2 linked regions of the Homo sapiens genome follow. Each later gene encodes a partner of the first gene's protein in a complex. Links are inferred from orthologs where the notes say so. Each region holds a gene or a part of one and is shown in the gene's direction. Other genes may lie near its edges. The genes, in order: QTRT2 and QTRT1.

Region 1 (8,507 bases):
TGAAAAGGGAAGGGATCATGATAAAGGCAAATAAAAACTAGTTAGTATTTTGGAGACTGTTGATCTGTTTCTTGAACTTTCCTTGGCAAAAAAGGAAATAATCACTCTCAAAGCATGTTTTTAAAAATATGTACATGAATATGTGTATGTGTGTGTACTATTTTATTACTTCATAGTAACAATTTATTGTATTTGAGCCTCTAGAAAAGAAGTGTAATTATAAAAAACATTTACCATAACCTGAACAATGAATGAAGAAAGGAAGACTTGGTTCTTCTAGCTCTGGACAAAATTCCATTTTTTTAAAAAAAATATTGATTTCCAGCTGAAGTATAGTACATCTCTGATGTTTTCCTCAGATTTTAAAATATTTGCATTCATCCCCACAAAACAGAATCACTGACCATGGCAGTTTATTTTAATACTTTTTCTTAAACCCAGTCATCTGCTTTTGCTTCCTTATTTTTCTCTTCGTTAATATGTTGAGTTACTGTGATTAGGGTGGAACTTTTATGAAGCCCCAAACAACAGAAGTGAGTATGTAGCACCAAAATCGTTCACTGTAGAGAAAGCCAAGTAGGTATTTCTCTCCAGCTGGCTGAGTGGGTTCAGTATTCTAAGCTGAGGATTTTGAATTTCATCTTTAAAGTTATTTGGGATTAAAGCATTATATCACAGGAGAGCCCATCTCTGCCTCTAAGAACATGGTGGCCAATGTCCTTTAGAGTTACAAAGGACCTCTAATTACAGACTTTCAGTTAAGAATCAAGAAAGTTGTTTCTTCAGTTGAGGAAAGAGTGGGAAGGGGAGATGAGAGGGAAGGGGAGATGAGAAAGAAGAGAGAAGATGCCTTCAGGACTGAGTGGATGATTAATCACACTTGAGACTCGTTTGTTAAAAGATGGGAACTTCTAGAATATGTTCATTCTTTCCTTACACAAGGATGAAACTAAGAAGTCTTTGAGAGAAAGGTAAGTCTTGGAAGCCAATGGTCTGGGCTTCCAGGTCTGGCTGCCTTTATACTCTTAGAGAATCCTTGTGTCCAACCTTGGAGAATCTGAGATTGGTTGTTTGGTCATCTTCGCTTATCTGTGGGGAATATGTTCCAAGACCCCTTGTGGATGCTGGAAACTGCAAATGGTTCCAAACCCCAGATAGATAGGTAGGTAGGTAGGTAGGTAGGTAGATAGATAGATAGATAGATAGATAGATAGATAGATAGATAGATAGATAAGATAGATTAGATAGATAGATTAGATAGATCCAAACCCTAAATAGATAGACAGACAATAGACAGACAGTATGATGTTTCCTATCTATACATACCTATAATAAAGTTTAATTTATTAATTAGGCACAGTAGTAGATGTTAGTCACCTCGGCAAACAGTCTTTTTTCTTTTCCTAGTTGGAGAACTTTAACCTTTTCTCATAAGGGATCACTTTATGGCTTCCCTTTGGCATATCCGTATTGCCAGCATCACAACTCTTGTGCTGTGGGGCCAGTCGTAAGTAAAATAAGGGTAACTTGAACATAAGCACTGCAATACAGTGACGGTTGATCTGATCAATGTGACAGCTCCTAAGTAACTAAGGGGCGAGTGGCGTCTACAGTGTGAAGATGCTGGGCAAAGGGATGATTCACGTCCTGGGTGGAACAGAGCAAAATGGTGAGAGATTTCATTATGCTACTCAGAATGGCATGCAATTTCAAACTTATGTTTATTTCAGGAATTTTCCGTTTAATATGTTTGGACCTCGGATGTCCATGGGTAACTGAAACTGGAAAGCAGAACTGTGAATGGGGGTACTGTGTTAAGAAAACCGATGGGTTTCCTTTTAGTTGCCTTTATGTACCTTCTTCTTCCCATTCTGATTCTATGCTTGCATGGCATATTTGGCTTCATGTATTGCATTCTATAGGGCAAACATGCCACTGACTGATCCACTTTGCTTTTTTCGATTCTCAGAGTAAATAATTGTGCATACTGATTTTATTGTTTAGTCTCTGAGGTTGATAGGTTTGAGCCTGACCCTGAGTGATGGCTCTGTGCTGGGTATATAGAAAAGATCAGGCTCAGCTTACCAGGCAGAAGCCTAAATCCCTTACCAGTGGCCAGCCAGCCCTCCAAGCAGTACAAGACTGTAAGGCACTGGAGGGAGCAGCAGCAGGTGGCTAATCTTTGAGCCCCTGTGTAATTCTGTTGGCACAGGTTAAAGAACTTGACAGCTGCTTTCTTTTATCTCTTTTCTTTCTCTTTCTTTTCTTCTTCTTTGTTTTTAAGACAGGATCTCCCTCTGTTGCCCAGGCTGGAGTGCCAGTGGCGTGATCATGGCTCACTGCAGTCTCTGCCTCCCTGGCTTAAGGGATCTTCCTACCTCAGATTCCCAAGTAGCTAGGACTACAGGTGCATGCCACCATTCCTGGCTAGTTTTTGTATTTTTTGTAGAGACAGGGTTTCATTGTGTTGCCCAGGCTGCTCTTGAACTCCTGGGCTCAAGCGATCTGCCCACCTTGGCCTCCCAAACTGCTGGAATTACAGGCGTGAGCCAATGTGCCCAACCAAAGCCACTTTCTTTTTATGACTTTCCACAGTGTGTTCTAGGGGAAAAAAACAAAAAGATGTTTCATAGATTTCACATATACTTTTGAAAAATCTTGTTATTTTCAGTGGCCATGGTATGCTGCAGGATATTCTAAAAAAAAAAAAAAAAAAATCTGAATGCATCTCCTAGCATGTTAAATTTACTCTCACATAAAAGCCATAATTGGATGGGTGCAGTGGCTCACGCCTGTAATCCCAACACTTTGGGAGGTCAAGGCAGGAGGATCACTTGAGCGCAGGAGTTTGAGACCAGCCTGGGCAACGTAGTGAGACTCCATCTCTCCAAAAAAAGTTTTTTAATTAGTTAGGTGCAGTGGTTGGGCACCTGTGGTCTCAGCTACTTAGGAGGCTGAGGTGGGAAGGTTACTTGAGCCTGGGATGTCAAGGCTACAGTAAGCCGTGATTACACCACTGCACTCCAGCCTGGGCAATAGAGTGAGACCTTGTCTCAAAAAAAAAAAAAAAAAAAAAAAGAATAAAAAGAATACAGGCCTTTTGCAGGAGGCCCAGGTTCTAGACAAGCCTATGACTAAGCAGGCCTAGTCTCAGACTGATTACAATAAAATGGCAGAAGGGGTGATGTGGTGATGAGGAATTCCCAGGTAGGGGTCTCTGGTAGTAATGGAACTCTATAAACTATTTTCAGTATTTCTAAAGTCTAATGGTAATTATACAATACTGGGATATTAAGCACAGTTTTACTAAAGCAATGGGGTTTGTTGTTTTTACCTGGAATTCAGTTAACACAACATGGAAAAGCAGATTATCTCATGCTTGTCAGAAGCTTTGGTTGTCAGTCATTTGTGTCATTTATTAATAAACTGGAGAAACGAGAGCATAAATTTGATGAGGAGAGATAATAAAAGTAACATTCTAGAATCCTATACTTCATTTTTCAAACGTATTAGTTTTACCCAATGAAGGTTCTTCGTGCCTTTATATGAATTTAATTTAAAAAACACTGTTCATGTGTGTACATTTAAACTCTTTACATACTTTACACAGCTCAGATGAGAGAGTATTTTTGGAGTAAGATAGAATTTTTGGAGGAGCCAGCAAGTTCTTGTCTCTAGCCCTTTCTGAAATAGCTTCGGGCAACACAGTTTCTTCCGTTCTCAGACGTATGTGATAGTAGGAAATGCGTAAGTTACTGCAGCATTTAAAAATTCTGGTCCGTTTAATTTTCATTAGTTCTTATTTGTGTTTCAAGAAATCTAGTGTTCCATATTGGTTGATTTCAATATTCAGTCAGAACAACAGGTATTGATTCATGAAGCTTTGAAGTACATTTCTCATCTTTGTGCTTCCCCCTGCTTCAATTCTCCAGAGCTACTTAGATTACAAAAGTCTGTCTTAAATTTCACATTAGAACTCTGTTGGTTTAAAATATAAAATACATTTTTATCACTTGAAATCAGTATTATCTGATAAATAAATAAAGATTACAATTCTTTTATATTTTCTACAGTATGCTTTTATTAGCTTATAAGTATAGTTTTACAGTTTTCTTAAATGAACCTTCTTGTTTTAGCAGTTTTAATGTGTAACAATAGGGTATGTAAAAAAATAGCTTTTATACTATTTATTAAAATATAACCTTTTTTTCCTTACCAGTCTCCATTTATGTGGGTTCTAATGACACTTATTTGTATGTTTCTATCTTAGTGATAACTTGAAATAATGATCTCATAGTTATAGAAAATTGACCAGGCTTTCATCAAACACTTATATTAGTTTTTATAATTTGTGTTTAGCATAAAATCTCTTCTTAGACCATATAGAAAGTAGTTATTCTTTTTTTTTAAGAAAGTAGTTATTCTTATGTCTAAGATTCTAATGACAAAGATGGCTATTTTATTTAAATTTAAGAATTTATGTCTCCTAAAAAAAAGTAATGTTTTTATTCTTGAATATATTTAACTAATGATAGATATGTCTTATTTATTTGGTGACATTTTAACAATGGTTGACTTTCAGAGTATGGTATGCTATAATGCTTAAGAAAATGGGATCTGGCCGGGCACAGTGGCTCATGCTTGTTACCTCAGCACTTTGGGAGGCTGAGGTGGGCGGATCACCTGAGGTCAGGAGTTCGAGACCAGCCTGGCCAACATGGTGAAACCCCATTTCTACTACAAATACAAAAGTCATCTGGGCATGGCGGCACACACCTGTAATCTCAACTACTTGGGAGGCTGAGGCAGGAGAATCTCTTGAACCCGAGAAGCAGAGGTTACAGTGAGCTGAGATCGCTTCACTGCACTCCAGCCTGGGTGACAGAGCGAGATTCTGTGTCCAAAAAAAAATGAAAGAGAGAAAAGAAAAGAAAATTGGATCCTCTCTGATAGCTCATTTGTCAACTAATAAAACTGGGCCTGGCCCAGTTTTTAAGAATTCCAGAAGATATGGTACTTGCTGTAGAGATGTAATGAAGTATTTGTAAAATGTTGGTATGTCTGGTGACATTTAGCCGATGATGTGTGTGCTTATCAAGTTCTGTAGTGCATTTTAAAAGTGGAACCCAGTATTTTGCTTCACTGAATACTAAATCATTTAGGAGCACCCAACAAGTAATTGATAATGTTTTCTGATTTTTTTTCCCTGTATATCTATAGAAGTTAGAAAGTGTATCTTTATTTTTTTCTTTAAACACATATTAGTCTTTCCCAGTTATAAAAGTAATGACACTTTGCTTATGGATTGCGTGTATGCTCCACACAGTTTCTCACTTCTGTTTGGATACCATATAAGAACAAATTGGGAAATAATCCGACCTCAGAGATCTGTTTATGTTTTGACATTTATTTTTCCATATATTTTCATAAACACCAGGATGCTCTTTTCTTCACTTAACAGCATTATTAGGAAAAAATTGCTATATTGCTTAGCCTTCCCTCAAATTGGAGAAAGAAAAAAGTGGATTATATCAATAATCAGTATGGCCTAAGCAGTGTTACTGTTCTCTGTATACATTTTCAAGGCTGAGAGAGCCTTGGCTTCATGGCATTCTTTCCATGATTAGTCTTTCTAATTCTGTTCTTTCATTTGTTTGGTTTTCATCAGCTCAGACAAAAATTCCATGACTAAATTTAAAATTAGTTGATGCCAATATGTGGTTCTGGGACCTTAGGGAAGATGTCTTATTCTCTTTATGTCTTTTCCCATTCCCCCGTTCCTGATATCTATGAAAATATTTAGACTGGAAGCAGTAATAAGCATGCTATCATTCATTTTCCTGAAGATTTTTTTTTTTTGCAAAATGCTTGGCCTCTAGGTGTTGTGAAGCTCCTTCTATACTTAATGCTCTTTTCTTGACAGGACCTAGAAGAATCCCTTAGGATGAAGCTGAGTCTTACCAAGGTAGTTAATGGCTGTCGCCTAGGAAAAATAAAAAACCTGGGCAAAACAGGGGACCACACCATGGATATTCCAGGCTGCCTTCTGTATACCAAGACTGGCTCCGCCCCACACCTCACCCATCACACGCTGCATAATATCCACGGGGTTCCTGCCATGGCTCAGCTTACGCTGTCATCCCTGTAAGTGTTAGAACCAATGATTCAAGTATCAACTGTGGCAGCAGCTTAGTTACCTTAGGTGCAAAAAAGAGAAATATTTTTTTTTGTTCATATATATAAATTGTCGATTTTCATAATGAAATCAGAAGAGAGGTTTCAAATATTATACATCTTCTGGCCCTAATCTGGAAGCCACAGGCCAGACCTATATGTTAGATCTGCTTCACTTTTCCTCCAAACCTACAGTCCCATACTGCCATGTCGCCACTGCTCCCAGGGGTGACAGGGCGGGGAATGTTCTGTGAGAGCTGCATTTGGAGTTCAGGAGCTGTTATCATGCACCAGCCTCAAAGTTTTTTCTGCCTTTGCACATATACTTGCTAATACTACTTTATGGAAACAGAACTAAAGTTAGATCATTTTGTGTAATGTATATACTGACTTTATACTTAATTGAAAAGCCTACTATATGACCAATTAACATAATAGTCTGCAGCGTTGTGTTAACAACAGAGATTTTAAAGGGGCAAGAGAAGGAAGAAAATTCAAGTATTCTGAAGGAGTTGATCTTTGCCAGTTTCATGTCTCACAGAACCACTAGCAAGTTGAAGGCCTTCGTTCTGGCTAATGAACCTAGCCTAATTAGTTAGAACTCTTGAATAATGGTGTAATTCAAGACAGCATTTACCATGATGTAACTTATTTGGGTGAGGAGAAGAGGGCTCCAGTTGTACAGAGTATTTACAGAATGACACATTATTATGTTATGTATTTTTCTGTTTTGCTTACAGAGCAGAACATCATGAAGTCTTGACAGAATATAAAGAAGGAGTTGGAAAGTTTATAGGTAAAAATTAAGTTACTTATATGTGCCTTGTGATGTGTTAATTTGGAGTTTGGAGGTGCTGTTACCTCTTTGATCTTTCATTCATATGTTTGTTTATTCATAAATTTAATAAGTATTATTTGAACATCTAAGAGCCAGGCATTGGCAAGTCAAGATTGAATAGGAAACAGTTGCTGCTCTCATGGAATTTGGAGCCTAGCTGGGATAAAGATAGAGAATTCTAGTAAAAATTGTGGTTACTGCTTTACAGGATTAGGGATATGTATGGATATCATGACAGGCCAGAGGGCAGAGCATATAACCTGCTCTAGGGTATATGTGCAAGGTGGTCAGAATAAAAAACGGATTCTTTTTTTTGTTTACGCCTCCATAAAAACCCAGAGAAAGGATTCTTGAGAGAGAAGTTGAGGGGCATTTTAGCTGGGTCAAGGAAGAGTAAAAGTTACCCAGGTTAGGAGTGGGAGCCCAGACAGGTGTGGGGCAGATGCTGCAGGCACTGAGTATCTGACTCAGCGGTGAGAACTTGCATGGGGCATTCGTGAGCTCCAAAGTAGTCTCATCATGCTTGAACCTCAAACATGCAGGGGAGGATGAAGCGTTTGTATATGGCTGTATTCTGATATGTTAATATTATCCTTTATTCCAGAAATAGGATTTTATATGCAGATGTATGCATCTATTTATTTATAGGAAAAGCTTAGCAGTGACAGCTAGAACATCAGTTCTTCTATACACCGCTTTCTCCTAACGCTTTTTCTGGTATCTAGGACTCACTTGAATGAAAATCCTGTTTCCATTGGTTATTCAGTCTTCTGCTTCTGAGAGCAGCTGCATGATGTCCTGTTGGTTATCACAAAGCCCTGTATTTTAGTAGAGGAATTTATGGAATATCATTCTCCTTGACCTGAGCCCAATTTTAATAACCAGCTTTAAAGTATACAAGCATATAATTAAATGAAAATAGCTAATGTAGGCTTTCTAGAGATAATTGTAATAATTGAAATTATGGAAAATAAAGTGAAAAAACTGCAGAGGTTTTACACTTGCTTTTTTTTCACTGGAATCCTGTTTTATTTTCCTTAACGAAAATGTGGGCTAGCATATGATATTTAGGCACATGGTTTACTAAACTTTTTTTGCATTTTTTAAAAAATGATTGTCTTTTTGACTGAAGAACTTAAGAAACTGTCATCGTGAATCAATGAAACTTACTAAGAATGGGATCCATTTGCAGCATCCTATAGCTTCTCTAAAATTCTGCCCCTAGGGACCCATGATATTATTGAGATTTATTATTAGTGAGATCACTTTGTGGGCATATCATTTTATCTTTGCGGTAGCTAGTTCCCCTTGGATGGTACCTGGAATAAGCATATTTGATAGTAAATTCTTTAAGTAAAGTCAAATGAGATCAACATGTCACTAAATACTTTCATTGTATATTGTGCTTTAAGATACATCTTTCCTTTGTAGCAGCTCAGTACCTATTTATTAGACGTGAAGCTTTATATTTCTTTCTTTAGATTAGTAATCTTTT
Region 2 (8,365 bases), on another chromosome or scaffold:
ATAAACTTCCTGAGTGTAGCTTCAGTTTTGACATAAACTGTTCTTATTTTCATGAATCTCTGTGACATGGATGTAGCTGCCTCCAACTCCTGTCCCTAGTGTTTTCGAGCCCAAGGGCCTGTTTCTCCTTATCATTGGCTTTTTTCTTTTTCTTTTTCTTTTTTTTTTTTTTTTTGAGACGGAGTTTCACTCTTCTTGCCCAGGCTGGAGTGCAATGGCACGATCTCGGATCACCACAACCTCCATCTCCCAGGTTCAACCAATTCTCCTTCCTCAGCCTCCTTAGTATCTGGGATTATAGGTATATGCCACCATGCCCGGCTAATTTTGTATTTTTAGTAGAGATGGGGTTTCTCCATGTTGGCCAGGCTGGTCTCAAACTCCCGACCTCAGGTGATCCGCCCGCCTCAGCCTCCCAAAGTGCTGGGATTACAAGTGTGAGCCACTGTGCCCGGCCACCACCACTGGCTTTTGATCCAAATTGTGAATGGCAGAACCTGAGCCTTGTGCAGCCTGGCTGCAGGGCAGGCTGGGAAAGTAACTGTCAATTATAACTTCTATGGAAAGGCAGGCTTAGCCTTAAAAAATATGACATTCTCTCAATGCAGGGGTGTATGAGCGGGGTCAGGTGTTAGGTGGCCAAGAAAAGAAGGGGCTATACTAGCTTCAGAACAGCAAATCCAGGCAACCCTTAATCCAATCAGCCATTCATCCAATCATGGTGATTGCATTCTAAAATGCAGAGGATTCCCTCCAACATCCCAGAAGCTTTGGATAACCAAGAATTGCAGGCAGGTCAGAGCTCCAAGATAAGGTCACCCAGAAAAGAAAGAGACTCACTTTGGATAAGATAATGAAATGCTGTTTTTGGAACCTAAACCACTGAGAGGCAACATTGGCTGCACACAGAAATTCCTTGAGGCTTAAAACAAAAAACAAAAGAAAATTGATGACTGAGTCTCATCCCCATAGATTTTTTTTTTTAAGAGATGATCGGCCAGGTGCAGTGGATCACACCTGTAACCCCAGCACTTTGGGAGACTGAGGCAGGTGGATCACCTGAGGTCAGGAGTTCGAGACCAACCTGGCCAACATTGCAAAACCCTGTCTCTACTAAAAATACAAAAAATTAGCTGGGCATGGTGGTGGGCGCCTGTAATCCCAGCTACTTTAGGAGGCTGAGGCAGGAGAATTTCTTGAACCCGGGAGGTGGAGGTTGCAGTGAGCCGAGATCGCACCATTGCACCCTAGCCTGGGCGACTCTAATTTCTGGCCTCAAGCAATCCTCCTACTTCATCGTCCCAAAGTACATAAGCTACTCACCATAGATTTTAGTTTAAGTTGTCTGGGCATAGAGATAGTTAAAAACTCCACAGGTAATTCTATGTGCAGCCAAGAGTGAAAAACAGTGGTTCTGAAACGAGTGGGCATCAGAATAACACAGAAAGCTTGGCAAGAAGCAGACTTAAACACATATTGGCCAGGCGCTGTGGCAATCCTCCTGCTTCAGTCTCCCAAGTAACTGGAATTATGGGTAATTTTTTAACTTTTTTTTTTTTTTTTTTTTTGCCATGTTGCCCAGGCTGGTCTCTAACTCGTGGGCTCATATGATCCACCCACCTTGGCCTCCCAAAGTGCTGGAATTACAGGCGTGAGCCACTGCGCCTGGTAAACATTTTGAAAAATAGAAATATTAGCTGGGCACGGTGGCTCACACCTGTATCCTAGCACTTTGGGAGGCCTAGATGGGTGGATCGCTTGAGGTCAGGAGTTTGAGACCAGCCTGGCCATCATGGTGAAACCTTATCTCTACTAAAAACAAAAATTAGCCGGACGCGGTGGCTCACACCTGTAATCCCAGCACTTTGGGAGGCCAAGGTGGGAGGATCACCTGAGGTCAGGAGTTCGAGACCAGACTGGCCAATATGGAGAAACCCTGTCGCTACTAAAAATACAAAAAAATTAGCCAGGCGTGGTGGCGTATGCCTGTAATCCCAGCTACTCAGGAGGCTGAGGCAGGAGAATCACTTGAACCCAGGAGGTGGAGGTTGTAGTGAGCCAAGATTGCACTATTGCACTCTCCAGCCTGGGCAACAAGAGCAAAACTCCGTCTCAAAAAAAAAAAAAACAAAAAACGGCCGAGTGCGGTGGCTCACGCCTGTAATCCCAGCACTTTGGGAGGCCAAGGCAGGTGGATCACCAGGTCAGGAGATCAAGACCATCCTGGCTAACATGGTGAACACCGGTCTCTACTAAAAATACAAAAAATTAGCTGGGCGTGGTGGCAGGCGCCTGTAGTCCCAGCTACTCAGGAGGCTGAGGCAGGAAAATGGCGTGGACCTGGCAGGCAGAGCTTTCAGTGAGCAGAGATTGTGCCACTGCACTCCAGCCTGGGAAGCAGAGCAAGACTCCATCTCAAAAATAAAAAAAAAATTAGCCGGGTGTGGCAGCAGGCACCTGTAATCCCGGTTGCTTGGGAGGCTGACGTAGGAGAATCGCTTGAACCTGAGAGGCGGAGGTTGCAGTGAGCTGAGACTGTGCCACTACACTCCAGCCTGGGCAACAGAGTGAGATTCTGTCTCAAAAAAAAAAAAGAAGAAAAGAAAAGAAAGAAAAGAAATAGAAAAGAAAGGATGAGTGTTGTAGACAAAGGCAGGTGCAAAGGCCCTGAGGTTGGCTTGCTGGTGGGCAGGGGTGTTTTCCAGGCGGGTTTTCCGGGTGTGGCCTTACTAAGGATGCCCCACCATCTGGGCAACCGGCATCCTTAGCCTTTCTTACAGGATAGGGGGCTTGAGGCTCCCTTAGACACCCTCTTGGCCAGAGTAGCTCAGTTTAAGACAATTGAAAGGACATCTTCTGGGACAATAGCGCTCTCTGCTGGCCAGGACAGATATCAGATCCAGTTGTAATGATAACAATTACTATATAATATTGTATATTATTATTATCTTTTTTTTTAGGGTTTCGGTCTCACTCTGTTGCCCAGCCTGGTGTACAGTAGCCCAATCATAGCTCACTGCAGCCTCCAACTCTTCAGCTCAAGTGATCCTCCTGCCTCAGCTTCTTGAGTAGCTGAGACTACAGGGGCGTGCCACCACACCATGTTAATGTTTTTGTTTTGATTTTGTTTTTGTTTTTGTTTTTTAGATGAAGTCTCGCTTTGTCGCCCAGGCTGGAGTGCAGTGGCGCAATCGTGGCTCGACCTCCGCCTCCCGGGTTCAAGCGATTCTCCTGCCTCAGCCTCCCGAATAGCTGGGACTACAGGCACGCACCCCCACGCCCGGCTAATTTTTGTATTTTTTTAGTAGAGACGGGGTTTCACCATACTGGCCAGGCTGGTCTTGAACTCCTGACATCGTGATCCGCCCGCCTTGGCCTCCCAAAGTGCTGGGATTACAGGCGTGAGCCACCGTGCCTGGCTCACAACCTGTTAATTTTTTAATTTTTAAAACTTTTTTTTCTTTTTGACACAGAGTTTTGCTCCTGTTACCCAGGCTGGGGTGCAATGGCACGATCTCGGCTCACTGCAAACTCCGCCTCCCAGGTTCAAGCAATTATCCTGCCTCAGCCTTCGGAGTAGCTGGGATTACAGGCATGCACCACCATGCCTGGCTAATTTTGTATTTTTAGTAGAGACGGGGTTTCTCCACATTGGTCAGGCTGGTCTCGAACTCCCAACATCAGGTCATCCGCCCGCCTCAGCCTCTCAAAGCGCTGGGATTACAGGCGTGAGCCACCGCACCCAGCCACACCAGCTTAATTTTTTTTTTTTTTTTTTTTTTGAGATGGAGTCTCGCTCTGTCACCCAGGCTGGAGTGCAGTGGCACGATCTCGGCTCACTGCAAGCTCTGCCTCCCAGGTTCACGCCATTCTCCTGCCTCGGCCTCCGGAGTAGCTGGGACTACAGGTGCCTGCCACTGCGCCCGGCTAATTTTTTGTATTTTTAGTAGAGACGGGGTTTCACTGTGTTAGCCAGGATGGTCTCCATCCCATGACCTCGTGATCCTCCCTCCTCGGCCTCCCAAAGTGCTGGGATTACAGGCGTGAGCCACCACCCCCGGCCCTTTATTCAATCTTTACAAAGTCTTTATGCCGAGATGCTGTAATTCGCCACATTTTATCCAAGAGAAAATTATGGCTAAGAGAGTCTCTGATTGTAGCTCGAAAGTGCTAGGGATGGGATTCGTTCCCAGTTCAATTCTGATTCTTCGCTTTAGCGTGTTGTGGGTAGGAGTTAAATGGGCCCCCAGCCAGGACCAGGGGTTCAAATCCGTTGCCATGGTCCCCCGACGCTTTCCCGGGCTCCAGAACGGATCGCGTGGTCACGTGACAGCGGCCAACATGGCGCCGCCCACTGTGTGGTACGGCCCACGTGGTTCCGACAGTCAAGATGGCGGGAGCAGCTACCCAGGCTTCCCTGGAGTCGGCCCCACGGATCATGCGGCTGGTGGCCGAATGCAGCCGCTCCAGGGCCCGGGCAGGCGAGCTGTGGCTGCCGCATGGGACAGTGGCCACTCCTGTGTTCATGCCAGTGGGCACGCAGGCCACCATGAAGGGCATCACGACCGAACAGCTGGACGCTCTGGGTTGCCGCATCTGCCTGGGCAATACCTACCATCTGGGTCTAAGGCCGGTGGGTGGGCTCTGCCCGCGCGGGGAGGCGGCGAGGCGGCGAGGCGTGGGGAGCCATGGAGCGTCCTCCAGGCCCGGACACTCCTCCCAAAGTCAATCGACCAGCTGTATTGAGCGCCCCCAATGACCAGGCCTTGTACTGGGCGTGAAAGAGCAGCAGGGACTAAAGCTGGCCAGATCTGTCTCCCAAGAAGGGCCCCCAGGGACGCGGTCACCCCTAACCTGACACTTTCTTCCATCAACCCAGGGACCCGAGCTGATCCAGAAAGCCAACGGTCTCCACGGCTTCATGAATTGGCCTCATAATCTGCTAACGGTGAGCTGAGGAGAGAGCCGACGTTCTAGGGCCCTTCTCTGGAGTGAAGGGTCCCCATCTCCACCCCCTGACAGCTTTGCGGTGGGGTTTCCCTTAGGACAGCGGCGGTTTCCAGATGGTGTCGCTGGTGTCTCTGTCCGAGGTGACGGAGGAGGGCGTCCGCTTCCGCTCCCCCTACGACGGCAATGAGACCCTGCTGAGCCCGGAGAAATCCGTGCAGATCCAGAATGCGCTGGGTGAGAGGACCCTGGGGAGCCGCCTCCTTACCCTGTCTGTCAGGGGGTGAAGTTTACACGGGGCCTGTTTTTTAGCTGTTGTGTGGCTTTGAGCAGGTCACTCCTCGCTGAGCTTCAGTTGAACCAACTCAAAGCGGGGGTAAATAGTAGCAGGTCTTTGGTAGAATTGTTGACAAGTACATATGAGATGATGTCAGTAAATCTCCATCCCAGCCATGTAGTAGCTTAAGTATTATTATTGCAGTTTTTCTCTCATTAGCAAATTAAGACTGGACGTGGAAGCTCATGCCTGTAATCCCAGCAATTTGGGAAACTGAGGCGGGAAGATCACTTGAGGCCGGGAGTTGGAGACCAGCTTGGGCAATACAGGGAGACCCTGTCTCTACCAAAATAAAAAATAAAAAATAAAAAAAACAAATTAATTGGACAAATATCTGTTGAAATAATGGTGGCAACAAGAGGATTGGGGAGGCTTTAGGCTTCTCCCATATCCTCAATATCCTTCTTTTTTTTTTTTTTTTTTTTTTTTTTTGAGACAGAATTTTGCTCTTGTTGCCCAGGCTGGAGTGCAATTTTGCGATCTGAGCTCACTGCAACCTCTGCCTCCCGGGTTCAAGTGATTCTCCTGACTCAGCCTCCCGAGTAGCTGGGATTACAGGTGTGCGCCACCACACCTGGCTAATTTTGTATTTTTAGTAGAGACAGGGTTTCTCCATGTTGGTTAGGCTACTCTCAAACTCCTGAGCTCAGGTGATCCGCCTGCCTCGGCCTCCCAGAGTGCTGGGATTCCAGGCGTGAGCCACCACACCTGGCTTTTTTTTTTTTTTTTTTTTTTTGAGACAGAGTCGCCCAGGCTGGAGTGCAATGGTGTGATATCCAGTCACTGCAACCTCCACCTCCTGGGTTCAAGTGATTCTCCTGCCTCAGCCTGCTGAGTAGCTGGGATTACAACTGCTTGCCACCATGCCCAGCTAATTTTTGTATTTTTTGTAGAGACGGGTTTCACTATGTTGGCAAGGCTGGTCTCAAACTCCGGACCTCAGGTGATCCACCTGCTTCGGCCTCGCAGAGTGCTGGGATTATAGGTGTGAGCCACCACGCCTGGCCCAATATCCCCATTTCTTGATAAAGAACCATGGCAACACAGGGTCAAAACCCCTCTTCCCCTCATCATTCTAATAGATTGATGCTGTAGGGAGGAAGAAATATTTTTTCTTCTTAGATTCATGGCTGAAGCCCCTATAACAAAAACCCTTATAAGAAAAGAAGCCACGTGCTGGGTGCGGTGGCCACGCCTGTAATCCCAGCACTTTGGGAGGCGGAGGCGCGATCATGACTCACTGCAACAGCTGCCTCCTGGTTCAAGCAATTCGCCTGCCTTAGCCTCCCAAGTAGCTGGGATTACAGGTGCCCGCTACCACACCCAGCTAATTTTTGTATTTTCAGTAGAGATGGGGTTTCACCATGTTGGCCAGGCTGGTTACGAACTCCTGACCTCAAGTGATCTGCCCATCTTGGTCCCCCAAAGTGCTGGGATTACAGGTATGAGCCACTGTGCCCGGCCTATAAGTTTATTTTTTTATGTTTATTTATTTTTATGTATTATTTTGAGACAGAGTCTCACTCTGTCACCCAGGCTAGAGTACAGTGGCACAATCTCAGGTCACTGCAACCTCTGCCTCCTGGCCTCAAGCAATTCTCCTGCCTCAGCCTCCCAAGTAGCTGGGATTACAGGTGCATGCCACCACGCCCAGCTAGTTTTTTGTATTTTTAGTAGAGACAGGGTTTCGCCATGTTGGCCAGGCTGGTCTTGAACTCCTGACCTCAAGCGATCTGCCCGCCTTGGCCTCCCAAAGTGCTGGGATTACAGGTGTGAGCCACCATGCCCGGCCAAATATTTTTTGTAGAGATTAGAGTCTCACTACATTATCTGGGCTGGTCTTGAACTCCTGGCTACAAACAGTCCTTTGCCTTGACCATTCAAAGTGCTCATGTTACAAGCATGAGCCACTGTGCCAGCCCCCATGTGTTTTTTGTTTGTTTGTTTGTTTTTTCTGGAGATGGAGTCTTGCTTAGTCTCCCAGGCTGGAGTGCGGTGGCGCGATCTCGGCTCACTGCAAGCTCCGCCTCCTGGGTTCATGCCATTCTCCTGCCTCAGCCTCCGGAGTAGCTGGGACTACAGGCACCCGCCATTACGCCCAGCTAATTTTTTTGTACTTTTACTAGAGACGGGGTTTCATCGTGTTAGCCAGGATGGTCTCGATCTCCTGACCTCGTGATTCGCCCATCTCGGCCTTCCAAAGTGCTGGGATTACAGGCGTGAGCCACCGCACCCGGCCTCTTTTTTTTTGAAACCGAGTTTCGCTCTTGTTGCCCAGGCTGGAGTGCAATGGCGCAATCTCGGCTCACAGCAACCTCTGCCTCCTGGGTTCAAGCGATTCTCCTGCCTCAGCCTCCCGAGTAGCTGGGATGACAGGCATGCGCCACCATGCCCGGCTAATTTTGTATTTTTGGTAGAGACGGGGTTTCTCCATGTTGGTCAGGCTGGTCTTGAACTCCCGACCTCAGGTGATCCGCCTGCCTCAGCCTCCCAAAGTGCTGGCATTACAGGTGTGAGCCACCATGCCCAGCTAAAGTTCTAGCTTTTTAATGAATGTCGTAATTTTTTTTTTTTTTTTTGATGTGGAATCTCGCTCTGTCACCTAGGCTGGAGTGCAGTGGCTCGATCTTGGCTCACTGCAACCTCTGCTGCCCGGGTTTAAGCTATTCTCCTGCCTCAGCCTCCCCAGCAGCTGGGACTACAGGTGCCTGCCACCACGCCTGGTAATTTTTGTACTTTTAGTAGAGACGGGGTTTCACCTTGTTGGTCAGGCTGGTCTTGAACTCCTGACTTCAGGTGGTCCACCTGCCTCAGCCTCCCAAAGGGCTGGGATTACAGGCGTGAGCCACCGCACCCAGCCCCATATTTATTTTTTCGTCTTTTCTTTTTTTTTTTCTTTTTTGAGAAGGAGTCTCACTCTTTGACCAAGGCTGGAGTGCAGTGGCACTGTGTTGGCTTACTGCAACCTCTGTCTTCTGGGTTCAAGCACTTCTCCTGCTGCAGCCTCCCGAGTAGCTGGGATTACAGGTGCCCATCACCACACCTGGCTAGTTTTTATATTTTTAGTAGAGACGGGGTTTC

Evidence for each region.
Region 2: the proteins of QTRT2 (region 1) and QTRT1 are in contact, whole or in part, in a crystal structure (PDB 7OVS), measured with the Mus musculus proteins. The link is inferred for Homo sapiens from one-to-one orthologs. Residues at the interface, in NP_001343258.1 of Mus musculus: Arg39, Thr40, Gly41, Ser42, Ala43, Pro44, His45, Leu46, Thr47, His48, Gln49, Thr50, Asn53, Glu70, His71, Glu73, Val74, Glu77, Tyr78, Phe85, Ile86, Gly87, Phe119, Gln342, Glu343, Phe345, Tyr355, Asn359, His360, Ala363; in NP_068688.2 of Mus musculus: Thr50, Thr53, Met54, Lys55, Gly56, Ile57, Thr58, Thr59, Glu60, Gln61, Ser64, Arg80, Pro81, Leu85, Lys88, Ala89, Phe95, Met96, Asn97, Ala307, Lys308, Phe310, Pro320, Thr324, His325, Ala328, Phe329, Ala332, Leu333, His335.

The regions. Positions count from the first base shown.
Region 1 is NC_000003.12:114,059,314-114,067,820, forward strand, and holds part of QTRT2 (queuine tRNA-ribosyltransferase accessory subunit 2), read left to right. Parts: intron 1-5,917; exon of another isoform or gene 5,918-5,923; coding exon of another isoform or gene 5,924-5,944; coding exon 5,945-6,144; intron 6,145-6,914; coding exon 6,915-6,970; intron 6,971-8,507. UniProt on the Homo sapiens protein: Non-catalytic subunit of the queuine tRNA-ribosyltransferase (TGT) that catalyzes the base-exchange of a guanine (G) residue with queuine (Q) at position 34 (anticodon wobble position) in tRNAs with GU(N) anticodons (tRNA-Asp, -Asn, -His and -Tyr), resulting in the hypermodified nucleoside queuosine (7-(((4,5-cis-dihydroxy-2-cyclopenten-1-yl)amino)methyl)-7-deazaguanosine).
Region 2 is NC_000019.10:10,697,071-10,705,435, forward strand, and holds the start of QTRT1 (queuine tRNA-ribosyltransferase catalytic subunit 1), read left to right. Parts: upstream 1-4,368; 5' UTR 4,369-4,390; coding exon 4,391-4,633; intron 4,634-4,879; coding exon 4,880-4,948; intron 4,949-5,045; coding exon 5,046-5,184; intron 5,185-8,365.